Regions from separate parts of the Homo sapiens genome. Here region 1 is linked to region 2. The links come from fine-mapping of genetic effects on gene expression. Tissue or cell type: lung. Region 2 holds a variant in brackets; the other region holds the start of a gene. All regions are shown on one strand. Distances are from middle to middle.

Evidence for each region.
Region 1: DOC2B starts here. The variant in region 2 is fine-mapped to the expression of DOC2B in lung (TOPMed, PIP above 0.99). The same link has a PIP of 0.9 or more in atrial appendage and esophagus mucosa.

What each region holds. Positions count from the first base shown.
Region 1 is chr17:179,232-184,595 of GRCh38, forward strand. It overlaps DOC2B (double C2 domain beta), which reads right to left and starts at 2,419. Exons shown (of 9, transcript NM_003585.5): 1 at 1,876-2,419. The coding sequence starts at 2,248. LINC02091 (long intergenic non-protein coding RNA 2091) reads right to left here. Exons shown (of 2, transcript NR_104420.1): 2 at 4,593-5,227. RefSeq lists enhancers at 775-1,341, 2,803-3,304.
Region 2 is chr17:203,050-208,413 of GRCh38, forward strand. No RefSeq gene overlaps it. Among named protein-coding and RNA genes, the nearest start is that of LINC02091, 18 kb to the left of the region's middle. The variant A/G (reference allele first, on the strand shown) is at 3,277.

The sequences.
Region 1 (5,364 bases), 24 kb before region 2:
ATGTGAGTCTGGCCCCTGCACCGCATGTATCTCAGGCCAGGGGCCCAGCCCTGCTGCCAGGACATGCTCCCTGAAGGGCTGCTGAGCTGATGGATTGGAGATGGGGCTGGCTGGCCTGAGTTTCTAGCTTCCTGGTCCCCTCCTTGCTTTGTGGGTTCAGAGACAGCAAAAAAAAGAAAAAGAAAAAGCCTCTTGGCCATTCGCCATGCAGAGGGCCCTCTGTGGCACCAGGAGGGTGGCCTGAAGCTCTGCCCTCCCCTCTTACTTCCTTGGTGCAGCAGCAGAGATGCCAGAAATGGGAACAACTTTCCCATCCGTTCTTCTGGGGGAGGCTTTGGATTCAGGGCAGCCAAAGCAGTTACTTGGGTCCCACTCAGGGCCCACCCAGGGGATCACCAAGTCCAGGGTGAGCTTCGCACAGGGTGCCAGGGGCAGAGGGGAGGGGGGGTGGATCTAGGGCACAGCCCTGAGGGCAAAAAACTCTTCCGACCCAATCTCCCCAAGCTGGCAGGAAAGTGGAGGGACAAGACTGCTCCCCAGCCCCCACGCCCCAGGGCAGGGCCTTCATGTGCCAGGCGCTGGCCCGAGGGCCGTGGTCCAGGCCTCTAGAAAGTGCAAAGCAGGCAGTTTCCCCTACAGGGGCCCTGCTCTAACCGGCCACTGCTGATGGGCCTCCCCAGGTGGGGCGATGGGGGGTCTGTGCCCCGGGGGCACTGGTAATCCCTACCTTCAGCTTCTGGTGGCACATTTGATGCTTGGGAAACTCCAGGCCCGCAGCCCACAGGCCCTGGTGAGTGCCCAGGCCAGGCGCAGACATCCCTGCTGCGCAGGGGAGGGGCAGCACCAGCCCTGGAGAAGGGCCACATCCCGGGAAGGGCTGGGGTTTGACGAGACGCTGGTTTTCCAGGTCTCAGTGACAAGTCTGGAGCCACAGCTGAGCTAGGAGGGGGTTCTCACATGCCATCCCCACCCCGCGCAAACCGACTCCTCACTGGACTGCGACCTCTTCCGGCCTCGGTTTCCCAGCCAGTCCCGGCTCGGGCCGGACAGGCACCCTCGGGGACGGGAAAAGGCGCCAGGAGCGCCCACCGGCCGGGCCTCGGTCCCGGGACTCCGGCGCTTGCCTGCTCCCGGGGGCTCAGGGCTCAGTCCGGGAGGAGGGGGAGCGGGCTGGGGGGCCCTCTCTGCCCGGGGGCCGCGGGCGTAACAGGTGGGCGAAGGTGCGCGGCCCTGGCGAGGGCTGCGGCGGGGTCCATGGACACCGGAGGAGGAAACGCCAAGGTTTTTCCAAAGGACAAGCGGCCCCGCGGTCCTCCTGGTCCTCTGCTCGCGCGCCAGCAAAGCAGCTGCGCTCTGCGGGCCGCCGGGACCACGCGGGAGGCCGGGCCGCTCCCAGCCTCGGGCCCCTCCCCAGCTCGCCCCAGCCCCGACCCTCGGCCGCGAGGCCCTCCCGGAGCGGCTGGCGAGCGGGGAGCGACCGCGCGGCCGGCAGCAACTGGTGTCTCCCCGGGACGCAGCTCCGCCCTTCCCGGGAACAAAAGCAGCCGCCCGCGCCGGAGCTCCGGGAGGGCGGGCTGGCAGGGAGGGGGCGCGGCGCCGGCTCCGAGGAACCCGGCCCCGGAAATGGGACACCCCCAGGGGGTGCCCCCGAACTTCCCTCCTGTCCGGCCTGGGTCGGGGGAGGGCTCGAGGCCGGTGGGCAGGGCGCGGAGAGCGCACCGAGTGCGCCAGGGGCCCGCAAGCCCGCGGCGGGGTTGTGAACCGAGGCAGAGCGCGAGCGCGCGAGGGGGACCGGCGGAGGGAAGCCGCGAGGCCGTGGGGGGGCCGAGCCCGAGCCAGGGGAGGGGGCGCGAAGTCGGCGCGTGGGAAACTTACTGCAGTCGTCCGACTCGTAGCCGTCGGCGTCCGGCTCGTCCTCCGGCGGCTTGGCTGGCGGCCGCGCGGGGCTGGGACCCGGGCTGGGGCCCGGGCTGGAGCCGTAGGCTCCGAAGAGCTGGTCCACATCCTCGTCGTCCTCGCGGGCGCCGTCGGAGGGGCTGCGGCGGCCGGCACCGGCCACAGCCGGGCGCGCGGGGGCGTCCGGGGGTGCAGCGGCTCGGGGCCCGGCGTCCGGGGGCAGGCCCCGCGGGAAGCGGGGGAAGTAGTCGGAGATCTGCTTGATGGGACGGATGGGGCCGGGGCACACGTCGATGGCCATATGCTCCTGGATGCTGATGGTCGCCTTCTCCCCGCGCCGCCGGAGGGTCATGCAGGCAGCGCCGCCCCGCCCCGGGCGCGGCCCGGCCCGGCGCGACCCCGGCCCGGGGGCGGCTCAGCAGGCCCGGCGGGGCGCGGCGGGGGCTGCGGGCATCGCCGGCCGCGCCCCCGGACGGCCCTGACTTGGCCGCTGCCCGCTCCGCTGCGGACGGCGCGAGCGAGTGCCAGAGGCCGGCAGGCAGGGGGCGGGCCCAGCCCGCGTCACCCGGCAGCAACCAAGCAGGGTGAGTGTGCGGGCTGCGCGGGCGGCGCGGAGCGGAGGGAGCCGCGCGGCGCCACACTCACTCGCACTCGCACTCACACCGGCGTGCACGCCGGCCCGGGACCCCGCGCGCGCACACTCGCGGCCAGGCAGGGCCGCCGGGCGCCTTCCGCTCATGCACGCCCGCGGCACAAGCTGGGAGTCAACCCGGCAGGGACCCGCAGGACGCGCACCCACACGTTCCCGCGCGTGCCAGCCCACGCTGGGCTCCGCTCGCTCTCTCGGGACACACGCAGGTGTGCAAGTGCACACATGCGTGTGCAGAGACACGTGGTGGAAGCATCCGCTCGCTCACACCGTAGGTCACACACGCAAACGTCTGCATGCGCACATGGTTGTTTTAGGAAGCTGTGACACAGTACACCCCCAATGCACAGGCGCGCACACCTGATGGAGCACACACACAGGTGATCAAGGGCACCCAGGGCACAGGCTTCCCTACCCCCAAGCACCCCTAACAAGATGCACAAACATGAGCCCATAGAAGTGATCAGGGGACCCTGGGCACAACTCCTTCTCTCCTCCCCCTCTAGCAGGACGTGGAGTCACACTCCTAGCATGTAGGGACAGGTTGCCTACACACGGGCAGGACATGTACACGCTCAACTGCACAAGGACACCGGGGCTCAGTCTGTGCACACATATTCTCAGGTCACATACAACACAGCACTCTAACCTCGGGTCAGTCCCTCACTTGGTCAGTGAGTACAGTCTGAAGGACCCCCCGGGGCAGGGTGGCTGAGAACCTGCACAGGGCCTGGTCAGGAGGGAGTGAGGGCAGGGCCTGGGCGGTGAGTGATGCAATAAGGCTGGGCGGCACGCTCCCCCCACCCCCACTCCTACTCTAGGCCTCCCACACGGTCAGATCACTAAACAAATCCCAGAGGGCCCAGCCCTGGCTGTCCGGCTTTCCGGGACCAGAGCTCTGTTGGGAACTGCTGCTGCTTGGACAGGTGTGTTCCCGGAAAGCCCTGGGCATGGATGGAATCCTGTTTACCCTCTGGTTTCCACTGATGTGTAAGACACTTAGCTTCTTAGTGGGTGCCTTTGGTGCATCTGAATGAGGGGCTCCAAGCCTCTCTTGTTCCCCCACCATAACCCCTGCAGAGTGATGGGGAGCAGAGGAAAGAGAGGCAAAGCCTTGGCCTGTGGCTTCCAGCTGCACAGTTCTGGCAGGCTATTTGACCTCTTTGAGCCTCGGTTTCCTCATCTATGAAGTGAGGCTATTTCCAACTGCACAGCCTTGTGGCAAGGCCCCATCCAGCACAGACAGGTAAGAGGTGCTCAGCTGGCTTTCCCTTCTCCCTTCCTTTGGAAAGACAAGACTCATGGTGAGAAGTGATGAGAAATTCATGTTTTGTGGTGAGTTCTGAACTGGGTGGTGGCGGGCACTACCGGCCTTTGAAAACACTGGAGAAACACATGGCATATGTTGTACTGCGCCAAGAACATTCACAGCTGTCATCTCATTGATTCCTTAAACCACCCCACGATGTAGGCAGGGCCTGCTGTTCCCATTTCACAGGGGAGGAAATTAGCGCTCAGGCACAAGGATGTGTCCAGGGTGACTGCTGGCTGGCGGCAGAGCTGCGATGAGAGCCCAGTGTCCTGACTGTTCGATGCTTCCACTTTCCCTCCCTTCTCCCTTTCCTCCCCTCCACTACAGAGCTCAGGGGCTCAGAGCAGAGTTGGAAACACAGGTAAAACCTCGTTCCCAAAGCTCATCCTGAGGCTTCTTGGACAGGGGAAGCCCAAACTGAGGAGGAGGGGAAGGAGGGAAAAAAAGGAGGAGGAAGAGGAGGACGGGAGGAGGCCAAGAGCCTCAGGGGTTACAGTGGGAATGAACCAGCCGGGGTTCCCTAAAGATAGTCTGAGGTCCTGGTGGGAGAAATATTCAGCCTTCCAAGAGCCAAAGGCCAAGGAAAGGACAGAAGAGCCTGGAAGGGCAGCCTGGCACAGAGGGGTTCTCATTTCCAGGAATGCTTAAGGGGATTAATCCTTAAATAGGCACAGGGTGACTTTTTCTGTGCCAGAGGTGGCTGCATCACAAAATGATTACATAATGACGCAGGTATTAAAATACAGACGCTGAACTGTCATTTTATCATTCCTTTACTAAGGAGCTGGAGGGTGTCGTCATCATCTTACAGATGGGGAAACTGAGGCTGCGGGAGGTCAAGTGACTAGCAAGAGGCAGACTGGAGATGAGACCTGGACGTCCTGACTGCTGAGCCTGCCAAGGCCCTGTACCTGTGTTCACCGAGAGCTGGCCGCTCTCTCCTGGCCTCTTGTCCTATGGGTCTGGTTTTTGGAGGATCGGCTCATGGCTCTTGGCTCTGCAGGAGCTGGCTCTTGGGGAGGGCTTTGAAGAAGTCAGGTGGAGGGCCCAGCCTCCTAAGCATGGAGCCAGGGAACCCAAGGATGCCCACTGGAGAAACACATGGCATGTTGGGGTCTACCCTTTGGCAGGTGGCAGAGTTGAAATCCACTCTAGGTCTGAATTTGCCCAGCTCTGAGCCCAGCTGAAATGGGGTAGGGCCTCCCCGAGGGATAGAAGTGGATAGAAGTGGTGTTATCTGGGCAAGTGTCCACTTTCTAGAAAGAGCATAGGTCAGGGAGTAGGCAGACGTAGAGTCAAAAGTCAGGTGTGCCTCCTCCTAAGCGTACCGGACTTTGGGCAAGTTGTTTAACTTAGGCCCTGGGTCTCATCTGCAATGGGGGAGAATAAGAACAACGTTGTGTGAGTTAAAGGTGAGGATGGGTATACAGTGCTTAGCACAGTGCCCAGTGTGCAACTGGCACTCAGGGAATTGTGATTCTGTTGCCCCTGCCTTCCTGGTGCAAAC
Region 2 (5,364 bases):
TGATTTATTTTAGAATACAGTCATGCATTGTATAACGAAGTTTGTCAATGACAGGCTGTATATCCAGCGGTGGTCCCATAAGACTACAAAGCAGCTGAAAATTCCCGTTGCCTAGTGAGGTTGCGGCGTGTAATGTCACAGTGCAACACGTTATCACTCGTTTGTGGTGATGCTGGTGTGAACACACCTATTACACTGCCAGTCACATACGAGTGGACAGTAATGCCCTGGGCCCTCACACTCACCACACACTGACTCTCCCACAGCGACTCCAGTCCCGCAAGCTCCATTCACGGGAAGTGCTCTATACACCTGTGTCATTTTAAAACATCTTTTATACCGTATTTTTACTGTACCCTTTCTATGATTAGCTACACACATAATTCCACGGTGTCGCAGTTGCTACATGCTGCACAGGTTTGTAGCCCAGGAGCCCAGGCTCTCCCACATAGCCTAGGTGTGCTGTAGGTTCTGCCACTTAGATTTACGTCCGTGCTCTCTATGATGTCTGCACAATGATGAAATTGCCTGACAACACATCTCTTGGAAGTATCCCTGTCGTATCCTGGTTGTTAGGTGACACATGCCTGTACTTCTGTGTGAATGAGTTTGAGTAAGATCTCATCTGCACACACATTAAGGGCTGGCTAGCCTTATTAGCATAAGGAATGTGGCAGTGGGTTTTCTTTCATTTATTTACTGTTTTTGAATAGGGTCTTGTTTTGTTACCCAGGCTGAGTGCAGTGGCGAGATCATGGCTCACTACAGCCTCCAACTTCTGTGCTCAAGCAATCCTCCTGCCTCAGCCTCCCAAGTAGCTGGGACTACAGCTATAGTGATTTTGATAGGGGGGGAATTTGTTGGGGGTCACTGAGGCGGGCTGGGGCACACAGACCAGGGCTCCCCACGAGGGCCTCTGAGGCACACAGACCAGGGCTCCACACAAGGGCCCTCTGAGGTACGCAGACCAGGCTGAGGCACAGAGACCAGGGCTCAAGAGCTGCTCTGCCCAGGATTCCTGTGGCTGCTGTGAACTGAGTGCTCCTGGCCGAGGACCCACAGCTTCTGGGAAGTGTAGGTTGGGGCTCCTGATCTGCTGGCCCCTCCCTAGGGATGCAGAGCACACAGGCCCTGGGCCTGGAGTGTTTCCATCCATCCACACATCCTTCTTCCCATCAGGACACTGGTCCATCCTCTGTTCATCTGTCCATCCTCTCAGATGTCCTTCAGCACATTGGTCCATGCAGAATATCTATGCACCTGTCTCTCCATCCATCTGTCCAATGCTCCATCAGTCTGTCCATCATCCATCCTCCCATCTGTCCTCCACCCACCCACCCCCACCATCCCCCACCCAATCATCATCCATCCAACTACCCCCTATGCCCCCACTCACCCTTCCCCCACCCAGCCATCCGTTAACCCCTCCCCCACCCATCCTTCCCCCACCCATTCCCCACTCAACTATCGCCCTACCCATCCCCCACTCCTCCACCCACTCACCCATCCATCTCCTCACCCATCCCTCACTCATCCAGACCTCCATCCATCTCCTCACTCACCTGCCATCCACCCATCCCCCAACCATCCTCACCCCTCCACCACCCACTGACCCATCCCCTACCCCTCCATCTACCCATGCATCCATGCATCCATTGATCCAGCAATATTTCTTGACAGCTAACTAGGGACCCAAAGGTGAATAAGCCTTGACTTCTGCCTTCAGGAGCCGGGCTCTAGGGAACCCAGCCTTGCCATGCCACGTCTGGAAGCAGAGCCTGGGAAGAAGGTGCAGCGACTGATCTGGGCAGGCCCCTGCTGTGGGGGCAGGGATGACAGGGCCCAGCTTTTGGTTCCCTTTTCCCCATGAAAGAGCCTGGGCAAAGGTGGAGGCGATGGCAGTCGGGAAGGAGGGAGCAGGGAGGGAGAAGCTTCATTTGTCAGCTGCTCAGCAGGTACAGTCAGACTTAAAATGTCTCCAAAGAGCAGCCGCTGAGAGGCAGGGGGTGAGCACGCTGAATTATTTTCTGGTAATTGGCACTGAAGAAGCTGCAGACATCCTGAGGTCTGCATCAAAGGCTCAGAGCTTCGGCCGTCTTGGTGGAGACTGGGGGCACCTCGTCGGGGGCTCCTAAGGATCTCTGAGCTCCTGCCTCCTCCTCCTCCTGCCTGCCTGCTCTCCTCGGTACTGTGGGGTGAGGAGAGGCACACTCTGCTTTGCTTTCTGCACAAGACAGCCCCGGGGTGGGGCCGGGCGCTGCGGGTCAGAGCCCTGACCGTTTGCAGAGGAAAGGAAAGGGACAGGAAACTGGAGCATCAAGGCCCTGCTTTGCAGGGGACACCAGGACTTAGCCATGGCAGGGGCTCTGCCAATGCTCTTCACACATGGCCTGGCGAGGTCCTTCTCCTCACATACTCCGGGCAATGCCAGTGCCAGGTTTTCCTTTGGTCTCATCCCTCCCCTGTGCAGAAGAGCATTTGCTGGCACTTGGATGAGCAATTTAAAGGCACTGGTCCTCCACATATATTTGAGACAGGGTCTTGCTCTGTCAATCAGGCTGGAGTGCAGTGGCACAGTCACAGCTCAGTGCAGCCTCAAACTCTTGGGCTCAAGTGATCCTCCCTTCTCAGCCTCCTGTGTAGCTGGTACTACAGGCATGCACCACCACGTCTGGCTATTTTTTTTTTTTTTTAATTTTTGTGGAGATGGCATCTCTCCATATTGCCCAGGCTGGTCTCGAACTCCTGGGCTCAGGTGATACTCCTGCCTTGGCCTCCCAAAGTCCTGGGATTACAGGCATGAGCCATTGCACCTGGCCTCCTACGTATTCTGTAAACAGGTGAACCTTTCTGTGTTTGTACATACTAGTGTATGCACACGTGTGTGTGCGTCTGTGTGCCGTCCATCTCCCCTGGCGAGGGCCCCTTCTGCCTAGTACCTCCAACAGCTGGACCCTCCAGCTGGTCACCTTATGTAGGAGGCTTCTCTCCCCCATGGGCGGAGTGCAGGGCAGGGTGGCCTGGGGTGGAGGCTGCAGGCAGGCCAGTTCCCCATCCAGCCTCAGCCTCCTTCCTGCTGGGGAACCAATCATAGGGGAGGAAACTGAGCTTTTTCCTTACAGCCACCTCAGGCTCATTGGCTGGGCCCCCTGTTAAAAAAAAAAATACAAAAAAGGGGGGGGCAGATTAACCAGAGAAAAGTCTGAGCATGTATTTAGCATGTGTTACGTCACACGGAAGCTCCATGAAGAAGTGAACACCTGAAGGCACCACAGA[A/G]CCCGAGTGTTTCTTACGGCAGGCAGCTCGATGGGGAAACGTGATTGGGTGAGTGTTTCTTACGGCAGCTGGAGGAAGGTAGAAGGTGGCGGGGAAACGTTATTGGACGAATGTTTCCTACGGCAGCTCGATGGGGAAACGTGATTGGGCGAGTGTTTCTTATGGCACCTCGATGGGGAAACGTGATTGGGTGAGTGTTTCTTACGGCACCTCGATGGGGAAACGTGATTGGACGAATGTTTCCTACGGCAGCTCGATGAGGAAACGTGATTGGGCGAGTGTTTCTCACGGCACCTCGATGGGGAAACATGATTGGGCGAGTGTTTCTTACGGCAGCTCGATGGGGAAACGTGATTGGGTGAGTGTTTCTTATGGCAGCTCGATGGGGAAACGTGATTGGGCGAGTGTTTCTTATGGCACCTCAATGGGGAAACGTGATTGGGCGAGTGTTTCTTACGGCACCTTGATGGGGAAACATGATTGGGCGAGTGTTTCTTACGGCAGCTCGATGGGGAAACGTGATTGGGTGAGTGTTTCTTACGGCAGCTCCATGGGGAAACGTGATTGGGCGAGTGTTTCTTACAGCACCTCGATGGGGAAACGTGATTGGGTGAGTGTTTCTTACGGCAGCTCCATGGGGAAACGTGATTAGACGAATATTTCCTACGGAAGCTCGATGAGGAAACGTGATTGGGCGAGTGTTTCTTATGGCACCTCGATGGGGAAACATGATTGGGCGAGTGTTTCTTACGGCAGCTCGAGGAAGGTAGAAGGTGGTGGGGAAACGTGATTGGGCGAAGAGAACAAGGTCAGTGGAGTGAGCGGGGACCTGAGCCAGGCATGTCGTTCCAACCCCGCTCCATGGTCTCGCGATAAGATGCTCCTTTCCTCCAGGTACCAGCAGAAAGCAGGCGTTTTCTCATGTGGGAAAGATGCCGGCCCCCGCTGTTTGGGGTGGAAATCCTCTAACCCGCTGGGCCTGTGCGCCAGGGCTGAGCAACAGCGCGGAGCCGTGCATCTGTCGGGGGCGGGACGCGGCAGCAGGGCTGTGAGGGCTGCGTTTTCTCTGCCAGCCTGATCCGCATCCCCTGCCCCTCGGTCGTCTGCCAGTGTCCGTGTATCTTTTGCCCCAGCTGGTGCGGGTTTAGGGATGTCAGCCCCAGGAGTCACAGGTGAGCTGGTTCCAATGGGAACCTCGGCATCACCTGGGAACTGAAATATGCATTGTCAGCCCCACGGCAGACCTCTGAATCAGAAACTCCGAGGTAGGATTAGTGTGTTCTGTGTTCTAACAAGTCCCTTGGGTGGTTCAGATGCAGCAGGAGGACGGGGCCATGTCCGTTTTGTCCACTACCAAACCCAGGGCCTAGAACACTGCACCTGCACCAGCATCTGCCCGATTAATGCTCGACAGAGGAATGAATGTGGATAAGCACCATTATTCCAAAGCCCCAAAGGGAGAAGCATGAAGGTTTACTGTGCCCCGGGTACCAGGCTGCCACCCTTCTCACGTTCTTATGGCATCTTGACCACTCCTGAGGCACGTGCCTCACTGAATTCTACGGGAGAAACAGCTGGTAGCTGTTGACATACTGGTCACGGTGGTGGGAGCTGTACTGGGGCCCTCATGTTTTAAATTTCCAGTCATCCTGGGACGGAAGTGTTATCCCCATTTCACAGATGAGAAACAGAGGCACAGAGAAGCACCCATACTTTCAGGCACTAAGTAGCAGATCTGGGATTTGAAACCAGGGTCCAAAGTTCATGAGCTCTCCACTTGCGGCCTCTTCTAGGAACCACTTGGGTTATCTGGTATTTGGGACAAATCCAGTCCCTTCCGTATGCCCTGATTTTTACGGATGTCACAGAACACCTTCCACCTTCTACCAGGAAAGGCTCAGTTCTGAAAGCTAACTTGTAAGTTGGTTGCTTGGGACTAAGAAAGCAGTTTCATAAAGAAAGGATTTCTTGGTTCCCAGACCAGCCCACAAAGAACCCTTGACTCCAAGGCAGCCGCAGGCTCCCGTGAGGGATCTGCAGCCCACCTCAGCTCTGAAGCTGACACTTCCACGATGACGTCGTCTTAAT